4 separate regions of the Homo sapiens genome follow, and all the other regions are linked to region 3. Evidence: fine-mapped expression QTL. A gene starts in region 3. Each other region holds a variant in brackets. All regions are shown on one strand. Distances are between the middles of the regions.

The links.
Region 1: its variant is fine-mapped to the expression of TLE3 in whole blood (TOPMed, PIP above 0.99).
Region 2: its variant is fine-mapped to the expression of TLE3 in whole blood (TOPMed, PIP above 0.99).
Region 4: its variant is fine-mapped to the expression of TLE3 in whole blood (TOPMed, PIP 0.99).

What each region holds. Positions count from the first base shown.
Region 1 is chr15:69,803,343-69,811,433 of GRCh38, forward strand. It overlaps the pseudogene GEMIN8P1. Among named protein-coding and RNA genes, the nearest start is that of LINC00593, 28 kb to the right of the region's middle. RefSeq lists a silencer at 1,640-1,836. The variant C/T (reference allele first, on the strand shown) is at 4,634.
Region 2 is chr15:69,757,680-69,765,770 of GRCh38, forward strand. The region is part of intron 2 of LOC107984788 (a long non-coding RNA gene); the gene reads left to right. Among named protein-coding and RNA genes, the nearest start is that of LINC00593, 74 kb to the right of the region's middle. RefSeq lists an enhancer at 3,254-3,323. The variant A/G (reference allele first, on the strand shown) is at 4,085.
Region 3 is chr15:70,095,300-70,100,299 of GRCh38, forward strand. TLE3 (TLE family member 3, transcriptional corepressor) reads right to left here and starts at 2,618. Exons shown (of 20, transcript NM_001105192.3): 1 at 1,476-2,618; 2 at 862-962; 3 at 279-342. The coding sequence starts at 1,499. RefSeq lists silencers at 607-1,036, 1,757-1,876, 1,887-2,056, 3,646-3,725, 3,796-3,945 and enhancers at 2,876-3,850, 3,938-4,975.
Region 4 is chr15:70,044,347-70,052,437 of GRCh38, forward strand. It overlaps TLE3 (TLE family member 3, transcriptional corepressor), which reads right to left. Exons shown (of 20, transcript NM_001105192.3): 18 at 8,028-8,091; 19 at 7,045-7,121; 20 at 3,444-5,858. The coding sequence ends at 5,751. Among named protein-coding and RNA genes, the nearest start is that of MIR629, 31 kb to the right of the region's middle. The variant A/T (reference allele first, on the strand shown) is at 4,325.

The DNA.
Region 1 (8,091 bases), 290 kb before region 3:
TACTTGGGCTGCTTTTGGTCACAGTGCTTGTCAAAGCTCAGCTGCACCGCAGCCTCCATGGCCTGGATCTTGGCGCTGTCCCCATACAATCGCTTCATCTCGGCCTGGGACGCTGCTCTCTAGGCCTCTCAGTTGGGGCCTCTACCAACCAGCGGGTGTTGCAGTACAGGTCAGGTCGTGGTCAGCCTTCACATAGCTTTCCAGGTGCTCTGCATCCAGCTGCTGTCACCACCGTCCTTCTCTGTGCCTCTACCGAGGCACTCTGCAGAGTACTGGCGGAGCTCTTTGGTGATTTCCATATTGCTCAGGTCACATTCTACCTCTGCATCTAACTTGATCTCCATCTCTTCCTCTTTGGACAAATCTTGGTCTTCTCTTGTGGATGCCTGGATTCTACTGCTGTCATGTGGCTGCTGCCCAGACCCTCTGAAATGTAAAGAACTGCACGGGGAGTCCTGCCAGGTCACATGATGGCCATAGAAGGACTAAGGATACGCAGCCTGGTTATCGTAACAGCTTTGGGGAGGAAGTGCAGGAGGGAAGTACCAAGGAAGACTGCAACAGGATTCCCCGGCCTTCCTGTAGGCATTGTGGTGGCTTTGCATCGAAGCCATTGCTTGATGATAATGTTGCCAGTATCTTGCATATATCGGATGAGAATACCAAGGCCTGGTAGCTTTCAATGTTCATGCCTTCACCGCTGCCGTCTCTGATTGTGAAAGTCCAAGTGGGTGCCGAAACTCATGGGCTCTCAGCTTGCATATCCTGAGCGGTGGCCAAGCAGGGGCCTAGTTTTCCTTCCTTAGTGAGAAGTTTTAAAGATTCCCTGGTCACTCATTGTTTTGAGCTAGATGTCTTGTGAATTAGTAGTTGGCACACACTTATTGCTTACCCCTCCCTCACATTCATTTCTTCATCGCCTAACAACAGCTCCTGATTGGACTTGGGGTCAAGCCCTCTCTTAGCCCAGGTGGCTTGGGTGGGGGTTCTTGAGGTAGAGCACATGACCCTGACCTAAGCCAATCATCACTTCTCATTTCCCAGGTCACAGCAATTAGTTCAGGGGTGGGCATGTTACCAGAGGCTAGTACAATCAGAATGAAGTCAGGACTTTTGTGGAAAGCAGGCTCAAGTCTCCCTGCTAGACTTGAACCCTCAGGCTTGTGAAATGAGCCTTGGGTGTTACCTTGAGTTTGAGAATAAAGCTGAGGACTGGAGAGAGGTCATATATTGGAGACAGCACAGAGCTCCTGATCCAGCCTTGCCTGAAGCTGGCCCTACCCTTTGATCTTTTAGTAATAGGAACTAATAAATTTTCTTTTAGGTTTAAACACATTTGGGTCAGATTATAAGTTAACTGAAGTAGAATGAGTCCTCACTGATACAAGTATGATCAGCAAAAGAAAAAGACCAAATATAATAAGGAAGACATATTCCTTGATATTTATAGTTTGGAAGGCAAAAAGGTTAAAGGGGACCATTCTCATATCCCCATGGAATCCATGGAGTCACAGTCAAGCACTCCTGGAGGGATCTGGGTGCCGGCATCTCCAGCCAGCCCTGTGATAGAGATCTGAGGAGTTCCCCTTAGAGCTTCTCAAGGAAATCCTTGATGCAATAAGCCGCACACTTAGGGAAGCTGTTCTCTCCAGACAGGGTACAACTTGAGAAATGGTTTCAAAATGTTTTGACATGTTCCTGAATGGCAGGTCTATGGGAGAACAGAACGGGGGCTGTGGTATGTTTGAGGCTTTCTGTGACCTAGGGGTAGGTGTCAGGAAAGCTTCCAAACTCTCCCTAGAGGCCAAGCCAGGGCTGCCTGAGAGGCTGGACAGTGGGCACTCAGGCCCCACTGGGCAGGGACACCAGTGTGTCATGCTTGTTGTCACACTTGGCTTATTTGCTCTTCTCCACCAGGAATTCTGTGGGGCAGGGGATTGCACACTGCACACATCACAGCTGCTCATCCAGGGTTCAGGGAGCACAGGTGTTGTGGCACTTGCTTCATCTTGAGTGGCACGGAGCACAGAGCAGCCCCTGTGGAGTGTGGAAACACCAAACCCTGAGTCACCACTGACTGTTGCCCTGGGCATAGAACCCCAGGTGAAGGCACTTAACACTGGTTATCCCTGTGCATCCAGGAAGCTGAATGGCGGCCAAAGAAAAAAGTTACAATGCAGTCAGGCTGGACCAGAGAATTCCTGCATGTGCAAGTTTGTGCGTGTGTATGTTTTGGAAGTCAAGCCAGATGTCGTCTTTCCTCATGTGACATTTGGTATCTTTTTTCCACAGCAGTGTTCCATTATGTTCTAGTTCTTGAAAGAGGCAGTGAGGCAACAAGTGTACGACGAAATTGATTTGGGAAATGATTTATGTGTATTATAGTCTTCTCTTAGAGGATCACAAAGTATATTAGCATATTAAAGGCTCTGAGAAGTCCTGTAATAAAGGAGCCTGGTTGATTGAATGATTGTGGAACTCATTGTGGGTGGATCATTCGCATACTGGATGGAATGGGGTGCCAGGCTGACTGTGCAGAGGGTGATTAGTCCCTGAAATGTAGATAGGGGCCACCTAGAGAATGGTGGAGCGTCGGACATGGATGGGTGAACTGACCAACTGGGCTATGCATTTCAGCCCCAAAGCACTTAAAGCATAAGGTAGATTGTAAGATCCTGGAGTTCACCTGCCTTAAACACCTCCTTTCATAGGAGAAGGACACCAAGGTCGTTAGAGAAGAACTGAGTTACTCATGATCACCAGTCAGAGCTCTTGGCTGCACCACATAGATGCCGATGTTGGATACCTAGGGAGAATGAGATTTGATGGAAGGATATGGAGAAGGCCACTGAACCCACTGGAAGACTGGAGAACCAGGTCCAGAAAACAAGCAGAAGCCAAGGGAAAGTGGGCTGCTGAGAGCATAGCCAGATCATGCCACGAAATCTGATTAGCCCACTTCAGCTACGGCCCATGATGCATCAGAAATGGACCCATGGCTCTCTGTGTTCTTCCCAGTGGGTACAGGTGATTGGCTGAGCACAGACTGCGTTCCCCTCCCTGGCTGTTAGGGTCTGGGAGAACAGGTGGGAGGCTTTTGTGGCTTCTGCAGCAGAAGCCCGGAGCCCATCTCTCCCAACGACTCACACAGGAAGGAAGCCCCCATCTGGTTGGGGGCAGAATGAGGTTACAAAGCCCATCTCCTGTCTTGCAGTTCAGATTATGCAGCCAAGGGTACTCTTTTACATAAGTGTTTAAAATCTTGATTTAATCAGCAACATAGACCTTGCAGCGTTCCTGCTTCCATGATAGAAGGATATGAACTATTTGAAACATTCGCAACTACTGCTCTCCTTGGGGATTCCTACCCTCCTTCCATTCTTTACTCACTGGCCTCATGGTAGAGTAACTAGAGCAGAAATGCAGAGCGAGAGAGAAACAAATATGCAGCTTTCGAAACCCATGGCAGAGACAATAGTTTGAGAGTCTCAAAATCTTGCCTTTCGAGAATCCGAGTCCTGACACACAGAAATCAGGAGGACTAGTGTATGGTTTGTTAAGCTACTTTTTCCCACCTACCCAGTCTACATTAATGACTCCCTGAGCAAAGAAAAAAAAAAGTCCTTAGAAGGAAAGAGAATTAAATGCTGGCATGAATCTCTGGGAATGGTCCTGCCTACACGTTCCACGCTCTCAAACTCTGAAGTTGAGGGGACGATAGAATCTCCAATAATTTAGGGGATCAGAGAGAAGAGAGACAGGTGCCCCCACTCCGTGGGGAGGCAGGAAGCTCCATAGAGAAGTCCCAGCATTCAGTGTCGTGAAGGACCAATAGATAGGCAGGAAGCAACCTCCGGGGGGTTCAGGACGCATCACAAGCCCTCATCCCCCCGGTGTTGTGTAGCGAACAACAGAATGTTTCTGAGTGTATCTGATGGTCCTGAGAGCCAGAAAACCTGGAGGGCCTTGAGCCTGGGATGGTAGGATGTAAGAGCAGGTGCAGGTGTGGACCAAGGGCAGGAATGAGGATTCCCCACCAGTCCACAAGGGGTGGCCGCCACCAAGGACCAGCTGGGCAATGGCCAGTCCAGTGGCGCCCAGGGTGGACAGCTGACGGCAGAGAGCCAGGCCTGCTTCCCCAGATGCACTGATGTGATGTTTTCCCCACCTCAACTGAATCCATCCTCTGGGAGAAGGTGAGAAGGGGAAAGCCTTGAATTGACTTGAATGGCGGTCCTGCTAAAAGTGGAATAGCGGATCAAAGGAGAAATTAGATTTTTCTTTTTAAAAAAAAAAAAAAAATCTGAATGTGTGGCCTGTGACATTCATTCTGATATAATGTAAACTGTAGTTTATGCATAGAGTTAAAACTAGTCCACAATATTTTCTTTAGAAAGGTTGCAAGCACCTGTCTCCTAGAATTATTATCAAACACCATTTGACTTTGATTTTCCTTACCCACATCCCAGGTCAAAGTTAAAATGATTGGCAGCATGTTGGCAGTGACTTCCCGTAAAATAGGGCTGGCACTGCTGGTTGCCTTTGGGCCCAAGCCCAGCAGCCACTGAGTGCCCAGGAGCAGCCCCTGTTCCTCCTGAGGCTAGGCCTCCTGGGTTGCACCCTCGATGAGTCA[C/T]GCTTGTTCCTGGCTTGGTGATCGTAAACACTGGAGGAGATGATGCAGATGACAGTCTTTTGAAAATCTTAAATTTCTGCCTGTGTCTGTGGGACTTCGGTCAAGCCTCCCCTTGGGGCTCAGTTTCCTCATCTGTAAAATGAGGTCACCTTTGCTGCCCTACTGACAGTGGTGGCAGCTTTCATGCATCCAGTGTCTACCACATTTGAGCACTTTCCACTTCCAATCAGATCTTACTTCGTCTCCATGACAGCCCTGCTGGGGAGGTGCAGTCAGCCTCGGTTTACAGATGTGGAAACAGCTTCAAAAGAAGAAACCTGCCAAAGCTCAGACACATAATTAATTCATCAACTCTAAGACTCAGTAGATTGTAAGACACACAATTATTTTACAAACAACAAAAATAGGAAAAAGGGGCCAGGCGCGGTGGCTCACGCCTGTAATCCCAGCACTTTGGGAGGCCAAGGCGGGTGGATCACGAGGTCAGGAGATTGAGACCATCCTGGCTAACACGGTGAAACCCCATCTCTACTAAAAATGCAAAAAATTAGCCGGGTGTGGAGGCAGGCGCCTGTAGTCCCAGCTACTCAGGAGGCTGAGCTAGGAGAATGGTGTGAATCTGGGAGACGGAGCTTGCAGTGAGCTGAGATCGCGGCACTGCGCTCCAGCCTGGGCAACAGACAGAGACGCCATCTCAAAAAAAAAAAAAAAAGAAAAAAGAAAAAGAACTGCCAATTATAACAGCAAGGTGTCACTGATTGCAAGACACATTCCGATTTCAGAGCCGTTAAAATGCATACAAAGGTGGGGCTTAGAATTTTTGGACTACTGAGTGGAACTGATGGTGAAGGTGGGTGTGATTCCAGGGCTGAGGGATTCCAAAGTTTGAGTTCTTTGTGTTGGGTCAAGTGGCCACCCAGAGAGCTGATGCATGCTGATGTGAGACTCCTACAAGCCATGAGACAAAACAGACTTATAAACATGTAACGTGTTGTGTTGACACAAGGAACCAAGCAGTGATGAGGAATGTGCCAATGGCTGAGATGGAGCAACCCACTTGCTGAGTCTTGCAAAAGCAACCTCCCTAGATGAACTTTCAGTGGATTCTGGGTGGAATTCTGTCACAGCACAGAAAACGGACTTCTTGCCATGGCGCTTTATGCAATCCCATCTTAGGAGCCAACTTGTCAAAGAATTGCTTGGCTTAACTCAGATCCAATTCACCTACAGAGAATCAACTCCAAAACAAGCATCCCAGGTTTGTTGCAGAGCTGATGAGCCTTCCGGTTGGTGAGAAGGGCCAGGAAAAAAATCCAAGAGACAACCTGGGATCCCCAATGGTTCTGCCTTGCCCAAGTCTGATGCTGCTGGAGGCTCCTGTGCCTGTCCCTTATCTGTCCCCTCTCTTTGGGTGGAGCAGGACCTGGCTTCCCTGGGGCTACTGTCTTGAATAGAGCATAACAAGCACGCACAGACCCTGTCCTGGAACCTGCCATTGCTGTGAGATTCCCCTCCCCAAATCAGATCTGCCCTCAGATGGAGCCTGAGTAGACACAGTCATTTAGACCTTTAGTTCCTCCTCACCAGGTGCCCACAACTGGTTTACCACCTCTGAGTCTGGCTGATCCTTTCCTGGCTCCCTCATCTCCTCTACCAACCTCTCAGATGCTACCATCTGATGTAAGTTTCCATTACTGTTGCTGGCTGGGGCACACTAAGCATCACCAGCTCTAGCATCTTAGGAACTTTATTTCATCAGGGCTTCCCAACACTCTCTGAAGCAGGTGTTACTTTTATTTTTATTTATTTATTTTTTTTGAGACAGAGTCTTGCACTGTCGTCCAGGCTGGAGTGCAGTGGTACGATCCTGGCTCACCGCAACCTCCACCTCCCAGGTTCAAGCGATTCTCCTGTCTCAGCCTCCTGAGTAGATGGGATTACAGGGGCCCACCACCACACCCAGCTAATTTTTTGTATTTTTAGTAGAGTCGGCATTTCACTATGTTGGCCAGGCCGGTATCGAATGCCTGACCTCATGATTCACCCACCTCGGACTCCCAAAGTGCTGGGATTACAGGCCAGCTGAAGGGTGAGCCACCGCACCCAGCTGAAGCAGGTATTACTATCCTCATTTTAAAGGTAGAAAACCTGAGGTTCAGAGAGGCCAATCACATGTTCAAACGACACAGCCAGCAAGTGAGAGAGCCTTCACTAAGTCGTTATAGAGTGCTTAGAACAGTGGCTGGAACAGCATGAACACTCAGTAAATACTTGTTAGATGACAGAAGGAAAAACTGCCTTATGGTGATAGTGCTGAGAATTTCATCACGAACTAGTTATTATTTAATTTTATTCAACCGAGCACCTGCTTTTGAGCCCAGGGTAGACCTACAAAGGATATAGGTTCTAGGCAACCCAGGTTGTAACACACACACACACACACACACACACACACACACACACACACACACACCCCTCCTTTAATGACCCGCCTGCAATTGATATACTGCTAAGTAGCATTTCTTGTACTGGGGAGATTCTATTTCCACACCAGCAGCAAATATGACCTTTGTGTCAGCTGCCAGCTGCTTATAATTCTGACAGATGCAAGCACATTTCTGGGAAGCTGTAGCCACTCAGGACCTTGCAGATCAACAGGCAACACTGGCGGCTTTGGTAAGATTGATCGGCCGGTGAGAATCCCATTTACAGCCCTAACGGAGCCTTGGTTTACCACGGCCTGGGCACTAATGACTTAGACAGCTCTGATCTAAATCTGTCAGCCAGGGCTGGTGGCGATATTAAAGAACACTCTATTTATATGAAGCAGCAATTAGAGGAATGCTCGCCAATGGGCCACCTCTTCCAAGTAAATCCCCAGCCTTCCAAATGGTGTCATGCTCACGGTTATTTTAATCCGCTTGGAATTTCAGGGATATTAATGTGACGGGCCATCGCAGAGGATTAGCCAGGTTTATTTCTGCTGACATTTCAGAGAGCACACTCAGGTTCCCAAGCCATGCCCCCACGCCTCCCTGGCGCATCACTGGGGGAGGCAATTGAGGGAGGGAGAAGCAGCTGCAATGAGGGTGAACCTGTCTCCCTTCAGCCCTGCCTCCCATCTCACCCTTCCTTCCCCTGCCTCCTCTGCCTTTCCTCCCCACTTCCCTCCAGGCCCCTTCAGTCTCTTCTCCCTCCCTGTTCTAACTTTTTCTTCTTGTTCTCTCCAGGAAACAAGCTCTTGTATGGGGTTGCCAGATAAAATACAGGATGCCAGCTTAAATGTGAATTTCAGATAAACAAGGAAGAATTCTTTTTTTTAGTGTAAGTACCATGCATTTATGTTGGGACATACTTAGACACTAAAAAGTTCCTTTGTTGTTTACCTGAAATTCACATTTAATTGAGCATCTTCTATTTTTATTTGCTAAATCTGGCAACCCTACATAGGAAGAGTG
Region 2 (8,091 bases), 340 kb before region 3:
TAGCCCCAAGATCCAGGTCCTTCATCCAAAAGACCTACCCTAGGCCCCATTTCTGCACATTTCCGGCAAGATTCTGCCTGATCACTGCCTCAAGTTGATAGGACAAAATATTGTACCTGGGATCAATAAAAATTCTAATTCTAGCACTTTTTTTTTTTTTTTTTGAGACGGAGTTTTGCTCTTGTTGCCCAGGTTGGAGTGCGATGGCGTGATCTCGGCTCACTGCAACCTCCGCCTCCTGGGTTCAAGTGATTCTCCTGCCTCAGCCTCCCAAGTAGCTGGGATTATAGGCAGCTGCCAACATGCCTAGCTAATTTTTGTATTTTCAGTAGAGATGGGGTTTCACCATGTTGGTCAGGCTGGTCTCGAACTCCTGACCTCAGGTGATCTGCCTGCCTTGGCCTCCCAAAGTGCTGAGATTACAGACATGAGCCACTGTTCCCGGTCTAATTCTAGCACTTTCTAACTCTTAGACCTTGGCTTACATAATTAATGTTTCTAAAAGCTGTGATTTTTTTCATTTGCATAATGGAAATTGAAATAGCTCATTGTGATGGTTCTTCATTCAACATGTTTTTAAAGTCCCTACGAGGTGCTCAAGCACTCTGCTGCTGTGATACTGTGGGTACATGACTGGGAAAGCCAGAGGCCATCTGATACAGCCACAGGAATGAAGCTTTGCTGGTTGATAGATGGGATAATGCAGGGGTTGGCAAACTTTTTCTGTAAAGCGCCAGATAGTAAATATTTTAGGCTTTATTCTGCCATAGTAGTGCAAAAGCAGCCATAAACAATATATAAACAAATGGGTGTGGCTCTGTGCCAATAAAACTTCACAAAAAACAAGCAGCAGGCTTTGGCTTGTAGGAAGTAGTTTGCCTACTGCTGGGCTAAAGGTTAATGTTTGTGGATTGAGGGTCAGTTCCAGATCACTCCAAGAAGGTGGCTTCAGATGATGAACATGTGGACTTAGGCTGGCATGCTGGGAGTTCTTCAGGAGGGCCTCCAAATGCATCATTCCTCTTGCTTATGCAGAGCTGGACGGGTTAGATCTCAAGCTGGCTTAATTAACTTTCCAGGCCTTCTTCCTTAATGGCAAAGTACAAATTCAGTAGCATTCAGTGGCCCCTTATAACAGACACAGTAAGTATGACAAAGATACAACCCAGCCTACACTACTGGGATGACAGGGAAAAGTCATCCCAGCAGGGTTTAACTAGTGGTTTCCCAAACTTGAACACTCATTGAATCACTCAGGATGCTTGTTAAAAATACAGATTCCTGGACCCCTACTTTAGAATGATTATTTCAAGCTATAGAGATGACCTGGGGATTCTGGACCATTAGCATGTGGACCAGATGATTTTAAAGGAGGGAAACTCAGAGTTAGGCCCCTTTTAGCTGTGACATACAGTGGTTATCAAAAGAGTAAAGGAAGCCTGTCTGCCCTTGCTGGGCTGTGGTGGGACAGAGAATGGTGGTGGTGGGGATCGTTATCTTGTCTGCAAAGACGTGGCAGGATGTGGTTGACCTGAACTTCCTGTGAATCAAGGAACCAGAGAACAGGGGGGAGAGATTCACAGCCCGGCAGTAGGCTCAGCCCACATGCCTAGAGTGTGCTCAGTGGGTACTGGGAAATGAGAGCCTGGCCCCACCTCTTCTCCGTGACCTTGGGCAGGTCACTTCACCTCTCAGAGTGTCAGTTTCCTCATGGATACAAAGGAGATGATGATAGGTCATTTTCAAGGACACCATGAAGAATAAATAAGGTATCATTTATAAAACCTCTGTCTCCTTGATTAGTGGTAGAAAATTCTCTTTCAGTGGAATCAGTGTCCACCTCAAAACATCCAAGGGCCAAGAGTTAGGAGACCTCCTTCATGGGCGGGGTTTTACCAATGACTCAATGCTCCATCTTGGAGTAAGTGAGATCATGTTGCTGGGCCTCACTTCACTTGACTGTAGAATGGGACGTTATGCACCTGCGGTTCCCTGTTTCCTTTTCAAGGATTCTCTTGAAGGTTGGATGAGACTATGGAATGAGAAGTGTCCTGGTGCTGTCAAGGGATATGGCAAAAAAAATGTGCAAGACCATTCTTGTCAGGTGCGGGGAGAGATGTTGCTGACTTTAATAATGTACTTCTTTCCATTTGTTATTTTTACAACAAAGGAAGAAATAAAACAGGACCTCTGAAAGATTCCTTGTCATATATAGCTTTCTCCTATTGAGTTATTTTCATCTGAGTTTATCAATCAATTGAGAAACAGTCACTGGATATCAACGGTGTACCCAGCCCTGTGCTATGTGTAAGATAAGGAGGTTCAGAGGTATGCCGCTAGGTCCCTAACCATGAGAGACCCACAGTCCAGCTTAGGAGATAACAAATATGTGTTATCCAGGTATGTTAACACATGGGAAGTGAAATAGAAGTGCAGTGATGATGCTGATGATGCTGACAGTAATGATGGAAAGGATGAAGATGATGTTAATTATTCTTCATATACACCACAATTGTACAGTTTACAAAGCATGTTTAGGACGATTATCTTATCTGATATTCAAGTCTAGAAAAACCCTGATTTTACTGATGAACAAACTGAGGGTAATAACTTCTCAGAGATCAGATAGGAAGAAAGTAGCTTAGTTGGACTCCAGCTTCTTTCTTTTGGCCCCAAGAGTGCCATTATCCTCAAGACATCATAACTTTCTTCCTTTAAATTGCAACAGAACATTGCAAAATGCACATTATCGTCAGATAGTAACATGAGTAAATTAGCACATGGGAAGTGAATGTTACAAGATCTCAAAGAGCAGGCAGGTCAGGAGACTGTTGACTGCAGTGAACAGAAGAGGCTCAGTGGAGAAAGCTGTAACTGAGTTTAGCCTTGGAAGGCTGCATGGTATTTTTGAGAGGTGGAGATGGGGAGAGGGGTGACATTCTTGGCAACTGGAAATGTATAGGTAAGAAAGGAAGTGAGAAAGTTCAGGGTGTGGCAGGAAATAGCCAGACCCCAGTCTGACCACAGTGGGTTCCATATAGTGGATCTGCTGGGGAAGAGTTGGGGATGTTCTCTTCCAAAGGGCTGGAGTGGTACTCTTTACTTTAGCGTAGGTGGGATATGGCCACCATTTTCTCTTTGATATCCTTATCCCCCTCAATCCCGAGTCCATCCATAATCAAATGAAGCAGTAATCAAATCAAATAACAGTCTGTAGTCCTAGCCCAAAGACAGAGTCTGCCACTTCCGACTTTTTTCTTTAAAAAAAAAAAAAAATGTCAGAATGCTGCTGAAACAGGAACAGCATTGAGGCAACAGCAGCTCTGACTCACAAACAGCACATCAAAGCAGCAACGATAAGAAACTGGCAGTAATTGTGCGTGTGAGCAGTGTTTTCCTGATGCTCTTTGAGGCTTGGGGGCCCCTCTGGGCAGCCTGATTGTGGAAAGAAGCATGTGGTTTTCAAAAATTGGGTGACTCACCACACAGGCAGTGTTCAGAAACAAAAACAAAGTCCTGTCTGCTTTGGTTCTCAGAGCCCAGGGCTTTGGGTCACTGCACATTTCAGGACATCAGTGAGCTGAGATTCATCTATTCATTCATCCAACCATCCATACATTTGACCATCCATTTATGCATCCATCCATCCATCCATCCATCCATCCATCCATCCATCCATGCATCTGTCCGTCCACCCACCCATCCAGGCATGCATGCATGCAGGCATCCATCCATCCATCCATCCATCCATCCATCCATCCATCCATCCATCCGTCCGTCCATTCATCCATTCATCCTTCTATCTATGTATGCATCTTTCCATTCATCCATGCATCTATCCACCCATCCGTCCAACCATTCATCTATTTGTTCCACAGATACTATGAGCACATATTTGGTATAGGCCCTGTGCTAGGCACAGAAGATGTAGTGGTGACCAAGATAGACTCTGAACTCAGTCCCTACCTTCATGGGTCTTATAGTCTATTGACAGAGAGAAGTATTGACCAAATAATTACATTGGCAATTAAATCACTACTGTGAAAAGCGCTGTGAAGGGAAATACTGAGGTGTGTAATAGGAG[A/G]AAGTGACCTAGTCTGGGAAGATGGTCAATGAAAGCAGGAACTTACGCTAAAAGATAGATAAGATTGATAACTCTACAATCAGCCTTTCAGCACCACCTCCTCCACCATTAGGGATAATAAAGAGGTAAAATTCAACATTTTTCAATCTCTCTGTCTTCATACAAACACCATGAGGAGTTAATGACACAATCATGCTTTTTTTGAGTCTCAGAGACCTGGGTTCAAATCCCATATTCTGAACTTACTACTGCTGTGACTTTGAATAAATTACTTAACCTTTCTGATTCTCAGTGTCTTCCACCATAAAGTGAGGATAATTATAATGGCCTTCAAAAGATAGTTTAGAATATAGGTTGAAATAATTTCTGTCAACTTCCTAGCCTATAGTAGATCCTTAATAACTGTGGCCAGGTTCTTAATCTGCTGTCACTGGTACGCAATTGTATGCATATCTCATGTGAGTTTGTTCTCCAGGGATGATCAGAGCACCATGCCTATTGTCTGAAGTGGCCGGCTGAGTTCTAGAACATAGCCATCTTTAATGCGAGTCTGAATTAGATGATCTCTAAAGTTCCTTACTATCCCAGCTTCTAGAATCCCAAAAATTCTTCATGAAAAAAAGCAAAACCATAGGCCAGGAGTAAGATGCCATGGAATCTCTTTTGCCCCTCTGAGCCTCAGTTTCCCTGTATCTCCAATGGTAGAGTTGGAACTAAGAGTATTTGTGGTCTGACAGTCTGGGATTTTGTGATCTGCAGGAGGCAAGAGGTCCTCGGCAGAGCTGGTGCCTGATCAAATCACGACATCCATAGAGTTTTACTTCTGCCCCTGTCCTTCCCCTGCTCTTTCTGCCAGCTGGCTCCAGGTGCCAGGGCTCTCACCTGCCCAGGTTCCTTCAGACAGAGCATGAAACAGCATCAACCAACAGCTTAGTTTATTCACACTGTGATCCATGAGCCTTAATATGTTTTCCCCCTTCAGAAAAATATACCTTTGGAAAGATGAACCTGGAGAGGATAATGCTTGACTCTCCTAGGTCTATCAATAATGGAGGAACTCCAGGCCTTGTAGGAGAAATGTACGGCTTCATCTCATTTCACACTCAAGGGGGAGCTCTTTATTCTGTGTATGGTCAGGATGTCCTTGCTGGGGATGGGAGCAGATCGGGAGGGAGGGGCTTGAGGTTGGAGCGGACAGGTGTTGAAGGATATCCTTCCTTGTGAAGCTCTTTTGGATGAGAGAGAGAGCAGTGCTGGTTGAGGTTCATGTCTCTCTGTTTCATGGTCTGGCTCCCAGGGACCAGCCAGTGTGGACCAGGACCCGGGGCATCTTGTCCTACATTTCCTCTCAGCCTGAGCCCTCCACAAGAGTTCTCTGGACAAGCCTTGCTTATGAGTGCCCCTGAGAGCTTCCTTTGGTGTGGCCAATGTCCCTTCTACAACCTTATTAGAGCGATGCATGGAGCAGAGTTAAATAAACAGAAATCTCTTAAGCATTTGACTACAGACTCAACTTCCCTTGTCAAATAGCCTGGGCTTTATCATTTTGGTTATTTTGGGAGTGAGGTGGGGTGGGTAGTCTTTCTTGTTTTTAGGAAATGGTATATAGAAGGCATATACAGAAGTGGTATGCAAATTCCACATCCCCTGCCCATGCAGAGGTTAGAAATTGAGCCCATCACTACTAATATTAATTTCCTATAGCCCCAGGCTTATGAGAGATTTTTTAGGAAAATGAGAAGAGAAGCCATGGACCACAATCCCGAGGAGATACATCAGGGAGTTGGAAGAACACATTAGTTGTCCCTAAGTTTGATGGGGCCCAGCCGGGCTGTCCATTCTGCTGAAGTGGCATGGCTTTTCCTGATTTCTCTCACCTGATAATTAGTTGTGACTGGTTAAGCAGCTGGTTAGGACAACTTCAGCCTTTAGCTCTTTGAGATATCCAAGGATAATATTATTTCTAATGTTCTCCTTCTTCCTACTGGCATTAGGTGATAGTGAGGTAACTTGGTTATCTGTTGCTAGTTAGGAATCAGAGCAAGAATTTAGGAAGGAAGTATATGTGCCTTCAAAGCAGCATCAGCATCTTTTGTAGATCTTCCCAACTTGAAATCTAATAAGCTCCAAATCTCGAACTGTTTCCCATTTATAATTTTTTTTTCTCAATAGCTGGCTTTGGAGGCTGGAGTCAGGCTGGGGTTAGCTACGGAGCAGTTGGAGAGAGAAGGCTCTGAAGCAAACTAGAGGGGAAAACATGCCAGGTGGTCAGTACCAGAGTGAGGAGGGAGAGCTGCCAAGACCTGGGAGATGGCTCCAGCAGGCAGTGAGCTGAGGCAGAGCTGGAGGCAGATTGGGCACAGCCCAGAGTGTCTGAGGGGGCACCAGTACCAGGGAAGGGGATTTTTGGGCTCCGGACTCTGCCCAGCCCTCCTGCCCATATTCTTCCCTGGTGCCCCTGGGGCTTCTCCCACTTTCATTCCATTGCTGCTTGTAAGAAGACAGATGTTGATGATCTTCATGTCTCTGGGGCTGTCAGTTCCCCTGGCCTAAGCCAGCTGTTCCATTGCAGAGCCGAGGCCCCAAAGGGTCTTTTACCCGCCATTCTCGCTGATTTGTTTAAAGTGTCCTTCTTATTAATTTTTAAAACTGTTGTAAAAGTTTTGAGGCCTGGCATGGTGACTCATGCCTGTAATCCCAGCACTTTGCAAGGCCAAGGTGGGAAGATCGCTTGAAGCCAGGAGTTCGAGACCAGCTCCACCATGAGTCAGAGACCAGCCTGGCCAGGAGTCAGAGACATAGAGAGACCCCCGTCTCTACAAAAAAATGTAAGAACTTAACCAGGCGTGGTGGTGCACACCTGTAGTCCCAGCTACTTGGGAGGCTGAGGCGGAAGGATCAGTTGAACCCAGGAGTTTGAGGTTGTAGTGAGCTATGATTGCACCGCTGCACTCCAGCCTGGGTGACAAAGCAAGACTCTATCTCTCAATAAATAAACAAATAAAAGAAAAAATAAAACGAAAGTTTTAATTTATTTTTTGAGTCACATGTGTTGAACTTATTTATTCAGTGAAATTTAACCTTTCAGAGTGTACAATGCATTCAGTTTTGACAATGTGTAGTATCCTATAACCACTTATAACAGAGAACATTTACAGGATCCCCCAAAGTTCTCTCCTGTCCCTTTAGAGCCAGCCCCCTCCCCAGCTCTCTAGTTCCTGCCACCACTAATGTGATCGTTGTCACTATCATTTTGCCTTACCTAGAATATCTTGTAAATGAAATCATTCAGTATGCAGCCTTTGAGTCTGGCTTCTTTCACTTAGCATAATGCTTTTGAGGCTCATCCATGTTGCCTGGGAAAGAATAAGACATCCAGTCAATCCCACTTCAAAATCATGAAATGGCAGAGTGGTGGTGCCCTGAATTAAAGGATGCTGGTCAAATAACACCTACCTGCTATAAGAACATTCTAGACTACAATGCTATGAATGATAGAATAAAGGGTTGTTTCCAGTTTTCAAGTGTAGGGTTGGGTATGATTAACTTCTTTGTTAATCCCTTAAGATTTAGGGATAACTTCATAGAAATAGGTCTTCCCTCAATCTAATTTTTAGTCTTTTGGTTTTGTTATTTATTTATTTAGAGACAGGGTCTCACTTTGTCTCCAGGCTGGAATGTAGTGGCACAATCTCCACTCACTGCAGCCTTGAACTCCATGGCCCAAGGGATCCTCCCATCTCAGCGTCCCCAAGTAGCTGGGACTATAGGCATGCACCACCATGCCTGGCTAATTTTCGTATTTTTTGTAGAGAGGGGGATTTCACCATGTTACCCAGGTTGATCTTGAACTCCTGAGTTCAAGCAATCCTCTCAGCTTGACCTCCCAAAGTGCTGGGATTACAGGCATGACCCACCGTGCCCGGCCCTGGTTTTGTTTTAATTCAACAAGTAATACAAATTTATTTAGAATAATTAGAAAGGGAAAAATCACCAATAACTCCATT
Region 3 (5,000 bases):
TTCAAAACACAAATTAAAGGCACATAAAGATAGTACAGAAGTCTCCGGCCTGGAATCGGGGTTTCTCTTTCTGCCCCTCCCCTCACTCACCCTCCTCCAAGTGGCCCCGGCAATGGAAGCTGGGGAAGGGGAGGGCAAGACCAGATTATGCCCTCTCTCAGGGCCGCCCTGCGGCTGGGCGGTGGTGGGGACCTGGCGCTCATCTCCCCAGATCCACGCCGCGCCCCCGGCCGGGGTCGGCGCCCCAACCGCCCCCCAGGCCCGCGGCCGCATCTCACCATCACATAATGGCGCTGCATCTCCGTCTTCTCGTTTGCCAGCTTGTCGTACTCCACTTTGAGGCTGCGAGGGCAGGAGGAGCCGGCTCAGGCGTGGCGCCTGGACAGCCTCCTCTGAGGCCCCGACCCAAGGGCCTCTAGAGCCACTTTTCCACTTTCCTGACACCCCCCCGGGGGCGCCCCCATTATCCCACAGCCTGGGGACGCGGGGGGATTTGGGTCCCCGCCGTGGGGAGGGGGATGTGAAACAATTCGAAACTTCCCGCGAGCCAAAGGACTTATCACGGCAGCAGGGGAGTAGGACCCTGACGCTGGCTCCCGACACCCAGAACCCGGAGTGAACCCGCTCGCCGCGACCTAGACCCTCATTCGGGGACCCCACGGGCGGCGCTGGGAGCCGGGCTGCTGCGGGCAGTAAAGGGTTAAGGCGGCGCGCTCGGAAAGGGGAAACAAAAGGCGGAGGCCCGGGCTGCCCCGCCGCCCCTAGGTCGGGAGCCCCCTCCGTCCCCGCGGGGGATGGCAGGAGCCGCGCAGGGGACCCACCCCTCCCCGCCAGCCCCGGGGCGGCCCCCACCGGCCTTACCTGTGATACTGAGCTTGCAGGAACTGGAATTCGTCTTTGATCCTGTCACAAGACTCAGCCACCGTGAATTTAAATCCCGGCTGCCCGGGTTGATGGGGAGCCTGGAGCCCGCGAAGACAAGACAGGGGAGGGGGCGGGGGCATGAGACCGCGCTCAGAGCGGCCCCGGCCCCTCCCCAACGGCGCCCAACCAAAAGAGGCCACCCTCAGCCCAGAACCTTCCCAGCAAGTTTCTCAGCTCTCCGACGGGGCGGAGGGGGGGCGCCCCATCTCTCCCCGTCGGCAGCGGGGCTCCCATGCCTTTCACCAAGGGCCTCCCTCTCCCCAGTAAGGCGGGGGCGGGAGACAAGCCGGGTGAGTTGGGAGACTTCAGAGCGGGGCCGGGGACCGCGTGAACAGCTCCCCCTGGAACACAAGCAGCCCCCCGCGCCACTCGCGCGGAATTAACCTCCTCTCTCAACGGCGCCCCCCGGCCGCATCCCCCTTTGTGTGAGAGCACACACACAAACACACACACCATAAAGGTAGCAACAAGCAAAATGGAGGTGCCAGATAAACTGCCTCGTTTACCCTGCCATGATAGATGCTTAAATAAACCGAGTTGCAATTACTCACCGGATGTCTGCCCTGCGGATACATGGCAGGGAGGGGTCGTGATTCCGAGAGCGTGGAAGCGCCGAGAGCCCGGGCCGGGGAGGTGCGGGGGAGGGGGGAGCCGAGCCCGAGCGGGGGGCGGCCGGGAAACCGAGAGCTCGCCCCCGGCCCCCCCAGCTCGTTCTCGCAGCGAAATCCCAGAGTCGGGCGCCCGCCCCAAGTGGAGACAAAGAGCCGCGGAGCAGGCGGCAAAGTCGTCGGCGGGCGCCGGGGCCGGGCGGCGGGCGCGGGCTTTGTGCGCCTAGGGCTCGGCGGGCAGCGGCCGGCCGCCTTCCCTGGGCTGCGTCGAGCGCGTCAATGCCTGGGACTGCGCGGACATCGTCGGCTCCCCAGCAGGTCCGGCGCGGGGTCCCGAGGCCGGGGGCCCCTCCTGGGGCGAGCTCGGGCCCCCTCCGGGTCACTCAGCGGGTCGCGCCTGTAGGGGGGCGCGCCGGGGCAGCCCCAAGCATCCGGGGCGCGCGGGTCCGATCCTAGAGGCGTCCGGGCCTGGGGCTCGCGGCGAGAAGAGGAAGGAGGCGGGCTACGAGGTGGTGGCTTGGGGCCGCAGGAGCGCCGGAGGGTGAGGGCGGGAGCCCGGCGCGGGCGCTTCGACGCCCCCCCTCGGAGAGGAGAGCCTGCTGTTCCGTCTGCTACTGCCGCTGCCGCCGCCGCCGCCGCCGCTGCAAGCCCTTCCCAGGGCCGGGGAGGAACTCCGGGCTCAGTAGGTGCAAATCAAACGCCCTGGCATCCTAAGTCCAGCGGGCACGGGAAGCCTCCGCAAAGGGTTCTCGCTGCTCCCAGCTTGAGCACCGCGTCCCCACCGAGGAGCGCTCAGCGCCACCGCCGCTGCCGCGTCGGAGCGCACAGGCAGGAGAGCGCTGGAGGGGAGACGCAGCCCGAGACCGGGGAGCTCTACGGCTTCCTTCCTTCCCCTCGGCCCGGCTCTCCTCTCCGCGCCCCGGCAAACCCCCAAAACACACACACCCAACACACACACACGCGCGCACGCACACACACACACACCAAAAAAAAAAGTGCCCCGGACCTACGGATACCACACACAGACAGGCGAAGGGGACGAGCACGAGGTCTGAACTGCCGCGAGAGCAGTTCCAAATAGGGACTGAAAAGTAACAAAATAATGTGGCAGCTTCGTCCGGCGCTGGCCAATGGGAGCGCGGGGCCCCCACGTGGGGCTGCGGGACTCGGCCTACGACTGGGTGCCGCTGGGCGCGACGTCACAATGCCCTCTTGTGTCTAAAACTATGCATGAAAAGTAGCAATCAGGCCCTACCCGCTGGTGACTTTCGCATGGGAGTGAAAAACAGCGCTCCTCAGATCAGGAATTAACCGAAAGACATATAATAAATAGATATATATTATAGTCCTGGGCTGCTCGAGTTTTTTTCCTCCTTTTTTTTCCCACGGTCTACTAGCAAATAATTATTTAGCGGGAGGAGGAAAGAGGGAAGACAGAGGAATAACAACAAAAGAAAATAAGACAAGCTGTACAATCTTCAAAACCTGTGGCTGGTAGTAATGTATCAGTTTATTCTGCAGCGGCGGCGAACGATTCCTCCCTCTAATCTCATTAGGTCTGCAAAGCAGCCCAATTAGATACTATAAAACAAACAATCACTTTGTCACTTTAATGTTTTCACTTCAAAAGATTTAGGACTGATAAAACGGTGGCTCCTAAAGTTGCCTCCGACCTTTAAAAATTTGCTCGGAACTCAGGATGTCCCCTTTTCTTCACCCCTTCTTCTGCCCGCCTCCCCCACATTAGCCCCCAGCTCTCCTTTGTTCACTCGCCCTTCTTTTCAGAAAGCCAAATAAACAGCTCCTTTGATGTGCGGCGGCTGCCTGCGAGGAGAAGTCTGAGGGACTCTGGCTAGGCGGGCAGCGCAGATGGAAGGGCCCGGCTGCCCGTGGACAACAGGCTCAGCCACGGCTGGCCCCATTCGGGGCGCCTTCCCCGTGGGCACAACTTCACCCTCGACGCAGCCTCGCCGCGCGGGCTCCTCACTGCATCCCCAGGCTGAGGGGGTTGGGGATGGGGTCGGGACCCTGCTCGGCCGAGGCCCGGGAACTCCGAGTTCCCACCTGGTTTGCTCAGCCTGCTCCCGGCAGTGCCACGGCGTTGGCGGAAGCCTGTAGGTGTCTCGGTCGCTAGCCTGGACACTCCGAGGGACGCGGACGCTCCCCCGCTCGCTCGCCCCGGCCCCGGGCCCCCCGGACCCCCCGCTTGGTCGCACAGGCCACTCGACTCCGGGGCCAGCTTGCCCGCAAACCGATGGCCTCGCCCTCCCGCGCTCGGGGTTACGGCGGGGCAGACGAGCAAGCAGGGAGTGGACCTCAAAGCGCGCACCGCCCGGTGGACGGCCAAGGCGGGACCCCCGGGGCCCTCCCCGGCAAGTCCGCGAGCCCGCGCGCGAGCCGGCCGCGCGTCCCCGGATCTATATTTTCCCCTCATTAGGAGCCGGAGGTTCGCTTTTGCATCTTAATGAGGAGCTGAGAGCTAGCGGGCGCTCGGAGGCCGGAGCGCGGGGAGTTACACGTGAGCACCCGCCTCAGAACTGAACCTCCCCGCGCCCGCTCCGGCCGCCAGCCCCGAACCGCGCTCCCCTCTTCATTTATTTATTCTCCTAAATAAAAACATAAATCGTGTTTCGGCGCGCACCGAAGACGGGGGAGGGAGAAGCCCGGCTCGACAGATGCGAGCATCTGGCCGCAGCATTCATTAGAAACAAAATGGCTCCTCTTTGGCGCTTCCTTTCCCCCTCCCCCTTCTCTGCCCTCCCCCTTACGTCACGGGTGGGCGCACCCGCTTCTTACTCGCCCCGCCCATTTCTCGCTCCAGCCCCACGTGGGGGACGCCGACCACGCCTCCGAGCAAGGTGCGAGTCACCAATCACGGACCGCCGAAGGGGCTCTTCGTTGCTGATTGGCGGAGCTGCTGGGCCCTGTCAGTCCGCGGCCAGAGCTGTCAGTCAAAACCACGCGGGGTGGGGGAGCGCTGACAAATGCCGAGGCTTCTGAGCCTCCCGCTTGCAAATAGTGCTTGGAATGGCTGCTTAATTAGCTTTGAATGGCTTTTCCTTCCAGCTCAAACAATCTGTCACTACCATGTGGTATAAAGGAGCCATGCATAAAAAAGTAAGCAGAGGCTAAATATCAATTTGATTTTGTGTATCAAAGGAATATTTTATTTTTCTCCCTAGTAATGAAACGTATCAATTTAAATAATAAAAGGTAAAAACACACACACAAACAAAAAAAAAAAAAAAAAAAAAGAAGAAGGAAAAGAAAAGAGGAAAAAAAAGAAAGAAAAAGAAAACCCAAACTCTACGGTGTGGCGACTCCTGCGCACGCCTGAAACAGGTCACTTCCACAGCCCACGTTCTGGAGGAAGCCTGAAGACTTTCCCCTCCCCCCTTTAAACTTGCATTTAGTGTTTTGTTGTCGTCGTCCTCCAGAAGTCTAGAAGGAGTGGTGGAGGAGGGGTGG
Region 4 (8,091 bases), 49 kb before region 3:
TCACCAGCCTGCTCAGCCAGAATCCTAGCCCAGCTTCTGGCCTGGAGGCTACTGGTGGGGGTGAGGGGTCGGGAAGTTGCAGCAAGAACTGGGATGTAAGAAGGCTGGATGGAGCTGGAGGGAGGAGCAAGAACTAGATGGGTTAGGTAGGGATGCATTGTTGGGACCATGCTCTCTTTTACCCCAGGCCTTAGCACATGCTGTTCCTTCCACCTGGAACACTTTTCTTCATACCTTTCATTGGCATGCCCATGGTATTCTTCACTTCTGTTTAGCTCTTGGTCCTTCCAGGACCCTCTTGCTCTGCCCTTCCATACTCAAGTCAATGCCTCAGCTATGTGTGGTGACATCTGGTTTGCACTTTCACATATCTCATGGAGTGGGAATTGTCAGTTTCTGTTTTCTCCCAGTTGGCTGAGAGCTCTAAGGGCAGGCACTGCATCTTACTATCTTTGCATCTTAGCATCGAGAACCATGCCAGGCACATATTAGATTCTTACTATATAAATGTTGGTAGGATGGACGGGTGAATAGGATGGCTAGATAGATGGATGGAAGAGTGAATGAAGGGGTATACGGATAAATGTGTGGGTGGGTAATGGATGGGTGGATAGATGGATAGAAGGATGGGCAAGATGGGTGGGTGGGTGAGTTCTAGGAAGTTCTTGAGGCAGGAGGCTGGTTTCCATGACTGTTCTGGGCCATCTCCTTTCCATGAGTAATTTCCTTACCAGTACTGTTGGTAGAGGAGCAGGAAGACTCATTCCCTGGATATTAATCCTCCAAGCAACATCAAGTCCTGTAGGCTGGGCAGTTCCCTCCTAGCTTTCCATCCTGAGTGTGCTAAGGGTTTAGGGGAGGGGGATGTTTCATCATAATGTTGGCTTGGACTCTGTGAGTCATGTTAAGTCACTTGCCCTCCCTGGGCCTTAATTGCCCCATCTATAAAATTGGGCTTAGTATAGATGTCTCTTCAAATATAAAAGGTCCAACTTTGGTATAATGTTTAAAAATGCTCCATTAATCATACAATTTTTTTAAAAGTTCAGATTTGTTTGCTTTATATTAAAAATGATGCTCATTTGTAAACACTGAATAAGTTATTGGGAAAAAAAATTACACTTGCATCATTATGGGCCATTTGATGGCCAGTACCTAACATTTAGCAGTCTTGCTAAGGATCCTTCTGGCTCCAGCGTCCAGATCTCTGTCTCCATACCTTCTCAGAGACCCTACAAGTTAGACAATTACTGCCCATGCTGGGGTTGGGGCCACCTGGGGGCTGCGACTCAGAGGGAAGCTAGAAAGGGTGGCTTTGTCAGCTATTGCCAAAGATGACCCAAATATTTGTTCTTTTTTTTTTGTTTTTTTTTTTTTGAGACGGTCTCGCTCTGTCGCCTAGACTGGAGTACAATGGCATGATCTGGGCTCACTGCAACATCCATCTCCCGGGTTCAAGCAATTCTCCTGCCTCAACCTCCCAAGTAGCTGGGATTACAGGCGCCCACCACCAAGCCCAGCTAATTCTCTTATTTTTAGTAGAGATGGGGTTTCACCACGTTGGCCAGGCTGGTCTCAAACTCCTGACCTCAGGTGATCTGCCCACCTTGGCCTCCCAAAGTGCTGGGATTACAGGAATGAGCCACCATGCCCAGCCCATTTGTTTATAATTTGATGGCAACTAAAACATTAAACCTGGCCTCTGACAACTGTGGCCCTCCATTTTTTAAAAAACAGATCTTGCTTTGAGCAAAAACAGCACAATAGAATTGAAAACACTCCAGACATCATTTCACTTCTCTGGGCTCGGGTTACTGAGTATCGGATGCCCTGGGTATCACGCCAGACACTGTGAATTAGGATAATCTCAAACTGGTGAAAGCTCATCATTCACTAGCACTGCCCTGGGCTGATGAGGTCCTGCGCACTGCCCTCCAGGGAAACTAGTCTAGGTGGGAAGAGACAAGCAAATAGGTGCAGGAACATGTTGTAAACGCTATGGTTGCTACAAGCCTGGATTTCTGCATAAGAGGAAAGGAACACTTGGAGGGTGATAAAGGCCAGAAAAATGGCATCAAAGCCTCCTGTCACCCTGTTAAGTAAAAAGGGGGCAACATGGGGGGATTAAGGATGGGAATAGGTTTACCATGGAGTGGGCCCCTCCTTTCAGACTGGAATGCTTCACAAATACTGATGTGCACAGGAATCGCGGCAGCATGTTAAAATGCAGATTCTGCTTGGGTAGGACTGAGGGGCTCATTCTAGATTTCTAACACGCTCCCAGATGTGGTTCGTGCCGCCAGCCAGGGTTGGGTGGAAAGCAGTGGAGTGGTGGATGGGGAGACGCAGCAGGAGGAAGGAGGAAGCACGTGCAGAGAGGCTCAGTGCAGGGGAGGCCCAGTGTGCCGGCATTAAGGACAGCAGCAGTGGGAACACAGGTCAAATGAAGTAAGGGGCTGTATCATCTCCCCGACCTTGAACTGTGAGCTTCTGTGGCAGGGACTGACTCTTGGTCATCTCTCCATCCTTGAGTGTGCCCAGGAAATCTCAGTGAACAGACTTGCAGAGGTTCAGTCTCTCCTCAAAGAGTAACATTGGCCTTGCTTTCCAATAGGACAAGCCTGGGGGGGTGAGTATTCCCTGATGGACATTTTCCTCTTCTGCCAAACTGGGGCCTGCAAGCCCCAATTCCACCCTGATCTTGGCTCCCATGGGTAACCTCATGCTCTGGACAAACACACAATCTTATTCTGGCCAGAGCCTGCTCCCAGCCCCCTAGCCCTCTGTTGCAATGCCCAGAGATGGACACACGAGAAAGGTATGGTCCAAGGAGAGCTGTTTGACTCACACCCCTGCAACCATTTGAGGCAGAGCTGTAGCCCACTGCAGCCTGTCTGGTCCCTTCTACCTGCTGGCATTGTCTCCTCCATAAGCCTGAGAGGACCTCCCTCTCCAGCTAAATGACCCCTCTGTGTGGAGAGAGGCCAGTTGTCCCTTCTAGTCATAAAGACTGTGCTTTATGCTGAGACTGTCGTTCCTCTTTTTTTTTTTAAATGTGAGATTCCCTTTCTTGTATGAAATGACAGCAGGCAATTGTTTGTGCTGAGAATGACTTTGACAAAATAAGGAGTTGGAAACCATGTTAATCTCCAGTGCCCTGAGAGCTTTTGCTAATGGGTGCATGAAATCCAAGAGCCTGGGGACCGCCCCGGGAATGGGCACCAGCATTCTCCTCTTCCCGCCCAGCCCCCCGACTCCCTCCCTGGGGACAATGACCTGCATTTCTGGGTCTGCCTCTTCTGCAAATGCTTCCTTCTGTATCATCCAAAAACACACCTTTGTGACCTAGAGATTGAAGATCTCCTCGTCCCACCTAAACGTGTTAAGCTTAAAATAAAATTGTGCAGGTTTCCAAGGTCCAGATGTTCACAGACACTTTGCAGTTTCGCTTCAAGTTCATTACGTTTAATTTTTTTCCAAAAAAGTTTTGCATTGACAGCTGTACAATACTTTGGTGTTAACCTGTGGTCTTCCTTCACCTCAGTGAACTCTGCCCTGCCCATCTGTCCAGAGGAAGTCTTAGCTCCTACCCCCCACCCTCCCTGGCGCTTGGATGGGAGGCGACACAGTATGGGATTGTGAAATCCCTGCTGCGATGCTGGGTATCTGGAAGGGGAGAAGGGGGTGGAAGCAGCGCAGGGAATGCTGTGAGATGAGAAGAGCTCACATCGATGGGAAATGGCCCTGGCCCAGGCTCCAGAATGTGACAGCAACAGTGGCCTGGCTGTTTTCCCGGGGGGCGGGGGGCGGGACTGGCAAACTGGGGGGAGAGGCAATTAAGACGCAACAATCAAACCAACCTTTAAATAGTAACTTTTAAAAATATAAAAACAGTTCAGTACAATGACTTTTCATTCTTTTTTTCTTCGGGAATAACTTTCTTCTACCCTCACCCTCCCTTCTGGCTAGAGCCTTAACAAGAGGTGGCAGATGGACATCTGAGACCCAGAGAGACTCTGGACGCCCCACGCGCCCAGCCTTGGAGAGGCACAGGGTGTGTCGCCAGCCTCCACATCCCATGCCCGGTGCGCTCAGCTGGGGAGCAACCTCACTGAAGGTGGGTGGCTTTCCCTGGAGCCCCTCCCACCTCCTCAGCAGACGGAATCACACATTACAAAATAATCCATAAAAATGCAGTATAAAAATTATCTTCGATATGCTACATCCATGGAGAGCCTGCCACCAGGACTCACAGCGGCCTTTAGCTTTTCTTTAAAAGGAGAAAAAAAAAAAGACCAAAAGGAAAAAAAAAACAAACAAAAAA[A/T]ACCCAACCCAAATCCTAACACCTCAGAACATGTTGGTACCAAAAGGTGGCACCTGCCAGAGGCGATAGTCTACCTAACCTGTTTGGGCCACAAGAGACTGCAATCTGCAAGAAATATCCACAGTGTGCCAGGATCTGTGTCCCCCTCTCCCACCCCCCAACCCCCACTGCTCTGCCCAGGGTGGGGGTGAGGGGGATCCTCTTTTCAGACTCACAACCCTGTAGGTTTATACACTTTCCCCCCTCTAAGGGGAGAGGAAGAGACTGTAGGCGGGAAGGGGGAGAAGGCATTTTATAAAAGGACATCACTTCTAATTCTTTTTATTCAAATTAAAAAAAAAAAAAAAGCACCCACATCAGTTGCTATTTTTCTCTGGTAGCTCCCTGAGCTGAGTTGCTATGCTGTCTTCTAACTTTTTGTCCTTTTTAGGCTGTGTCCCAAGATTCAGAAGAGCTGGAGAGGGAGTTCCTTTGAACTTCCATTGCTCACAACAATAACTAAGTGTGCACCAAAGAGAAAGACCAGGCTGAGGAGGAGAGAGGGAGAGACCAAGAAAGAGAGACACAGAGAGGGCAAGAGGCAGCCAGAGTGCAAGAGACCACAGAAAGCTCCATTTCTGCGGGTGTCCGCCTGGACGGGCCCCCATCTCAGTGCCTTCCATCCCTCAGTCTGGCCGGCTGGTTATCAGTCCGGATGCCCAGACCCGTGTGGAGGCACACGCATTCCAGCAGGCACCTTACGGCCAACCTGGTTGCCTTTTCCACACTCTAAGACTTTTCTCCTCTTTCTTCAATTGGTTCCCCTCCCTGTCTCCTCTTCCCAGGTGAGAGCATCTGTTTATTTAAAAAAAAAAAAAAAAAAAAGCCACCACCACGAGTGGATTACAAATACAGCAGGCGAAATACACACTCAGAGTTTCCGGTGGGAAGGGGCCTCCTCTCCCACTGATCAGTCCGCAATAGGAGTCTGTTATTTACATTTTTCACAAATCTTGTGCACTGCACAATCGGCAAAGAGAGACCCCCCCATCCCCCAGCACAACATTGTGGTCCACTCCAGCACCCCCGACCCAAGGTGAGGGACAGGGCAAAAGAAAAGGGAAGAACAAACAGAGACTCATGAGCGGGTCTGTGGGGGAACCGGAGCCATAAGCCTCCAATAAATCTATTTGTAGCAACTGCCAGCATTGTTCAGGGGGAGGAGGAGGAGCAGAACCCTTCCGAGTCTGTGAGACACATCAATCCAGGCCCAGGAGTCCAGACTGTGACGGGGCACGTGCCCTCTCAGCCGGCCGGAGCGCAGCCCTGAACGCTCGGCTGCCTGCGGCCCATCCTCCGCCATCCTCGGGGCCCCTCGCCTGGGGGTCTCCCTGTCAGAGCCGAGTCGGTTTCTCCCAGAGTTTGACAGCCCTGCTGGAGTTCTTGTTTAGTAGATGACCTCATAAACTGTGGCCTTCTTGTCACCAGAGCCTGTTACAATGTATTTGTCATCCGCTGAAATGTCACAACTCAAGACAGACGAGGATTCTTTAGACTGGAGGAGGAAGACGAGGAGAAGCAGCAGGAAGGCGTGGGGTGCAGGGAGAAAAAAGACAGGAATTCATTTTCCAGTGCTCAACACCATCTCGGTTCTCTCGGCAACAATTGCCCTCCTCTGCCCCTCTCTGATGCTCCGACCTGGAGCACAGTGCGGTGAAGAGGAGGTGGGGGAGGCTTTAAAGCACCCATGAAGCATTTTCAGGTAGAGCTCCCCTCCCACCTGCTTTTCCATAAGGAAAAGCTCAGTAACAGTCTCCCACGTGATCTTTACAGTAAGTCATAATGATCAGAACAGGACGCTTTAGCAAGAGCTTCTCCTCCGAGTTTACAAATAGGAAGAAGCATTTCCAAGCTAGGAGCTGGCGTCAGCAGCTCAGGCCCACAGCCTGATGAGTTAGGAAAAGGATTGCCACCTGATGTTTGAAGCATGTGCTGTAACTAGAGACCCTAACAATGAGGTTTGACACGCTGCACACCAGACATTTCAGCCTGGGTCCAGAAAGCGGCATGTTGGCTGAGGGAGTGAGAGAGAATGCAAGTGTGTGTGTGGAAGCGCAAGAGAGAGAGAGGAAGAAAGTGTGTGGGGGAGACCAAGTGTGCGTGAGTAAATGAGTGTGAGTTTGATCGTGTATGGGAAAGAGTGCACGTGTGTGTGTGCACACGTGTGTGTGCCAATCAGTGCAGTATGGCAGGCCCCAGATCCTGGTAGATTATAAAAAGCCTCTTCCTTTCCTCCTCTCTTTCCTGTCCATGTCCCTGCTGGTGCTGAATGCAGGTGGAAACACTCACTCACTTGAGGAGGCAACACTGCTCTGGGCAAGGCTGCCGGGTGCCCAGGTGCCCAGCGCACCTCCCGCAGGTGCTCAGCATCCAGCCCAGAGCAAAAACACTTATGCTATTCCTCACTCTCCAAATCCGACAAGCGCCCCGGCTTAGAAGCCCTTGCCCTCGGGGGTCAGAAGCCATCAGTAGCAGATTGTGTGTCCTGCTGAAGTCCCCAGGTCCTTGGGAGAACCCAATCTTGCTCCCCTATCAGGTAGGGGTGGGGAGGGGACCAGGGCAGGTCTGATCCTGGCTCCAGGCTCCTCCTGTTCTTCCTGCTGCTATCCTCACTCCCATCACCATCACCAAGTTTCAACTCTGGGTAGAACCCAGAGGAGGACTCAGACGGTGGGCAGTACCTGGAATATGCTGGCTCCATAAGGCGTCCTCCAGGCGTTGAGAAGGTTATCTTTCCCAGTGCTCACGAACCACTTGCCTGCAGGTGGGAGGCAAAGGCATGATCAGGTTGTAGCTCACTGCCCTCTAAAGCAAGACCTGCCCTAGACATGGCCAGCTGCCATAGAAAAGCAGTGAGAACTGCTAACTAGTATAACTCTCCAATTTCGAGAGGCATTTTGCAAATGGGACATGCGGACACCTGGAGAAGGCCTTTCTCTGAAATCCAGGGGGAGGGCTGGGCGGGGCTAGGATGGGAAAAGGTAGGATTTGAAGTTCATTGCAGTGATAACGCTGCCTCAAAAGATTCTTGTTAAAGCCACTAAGGTTGACTGGCCTTTCTAAATTCTACTACTGGAAGGCAACAGGAAATACTGAAAATATCCAAGCCCTGGGAGTCTGGAGACCTGGCTGAAGACAGCAGTCAGTGGGCGACCTTCCTCCAAGCAGGAACTCGGCCAGGGCTCTACAAGTGTTAAAGCCCTTATGCTCCCTGAAAGCCATGAGCACCATGCTATTCCCGACCAGAGAGAAAAATCCACTAGAGTTCAGAGAGGGTGAGATGTTCAAGACTGCACAGCTTGTCAGTGGAGGAGCAGACATTCCCATCCAAGGCTCTCAGATGCCAAAGCAAGTGGTTGTAACCATGGAGAGGAACTGCCTGCACTGCTACTGTCCTGTTCCTTTGCCCCAAGCCTGCAAGAACTGGCTCTGGCCTAGTGTCCTGAGAGTTCAATAACTCATGGTGACATCTGCATCCGAGAAACAAGGATGTGGAACAAGATCACTTAAGGGTGTTGAAGGGGCACCAGCTCAGGGGTCAGGAGGCCTGGTTCCAGGGCCTAGCTTATTCTATAAGCTTTGGGCCCCTCTTCTGTCCTGTTGGGCCAGGCTGCCCTGGGTTCCCCACCCCACTCCATCAGGCCTGGGCCCATCCAAGGCTCACCGCAGTAGGCGAACTTGAGGGAGAGCACGCAGCTCTCGTGCAGGTGCAGCTGGTACTTGTCAGG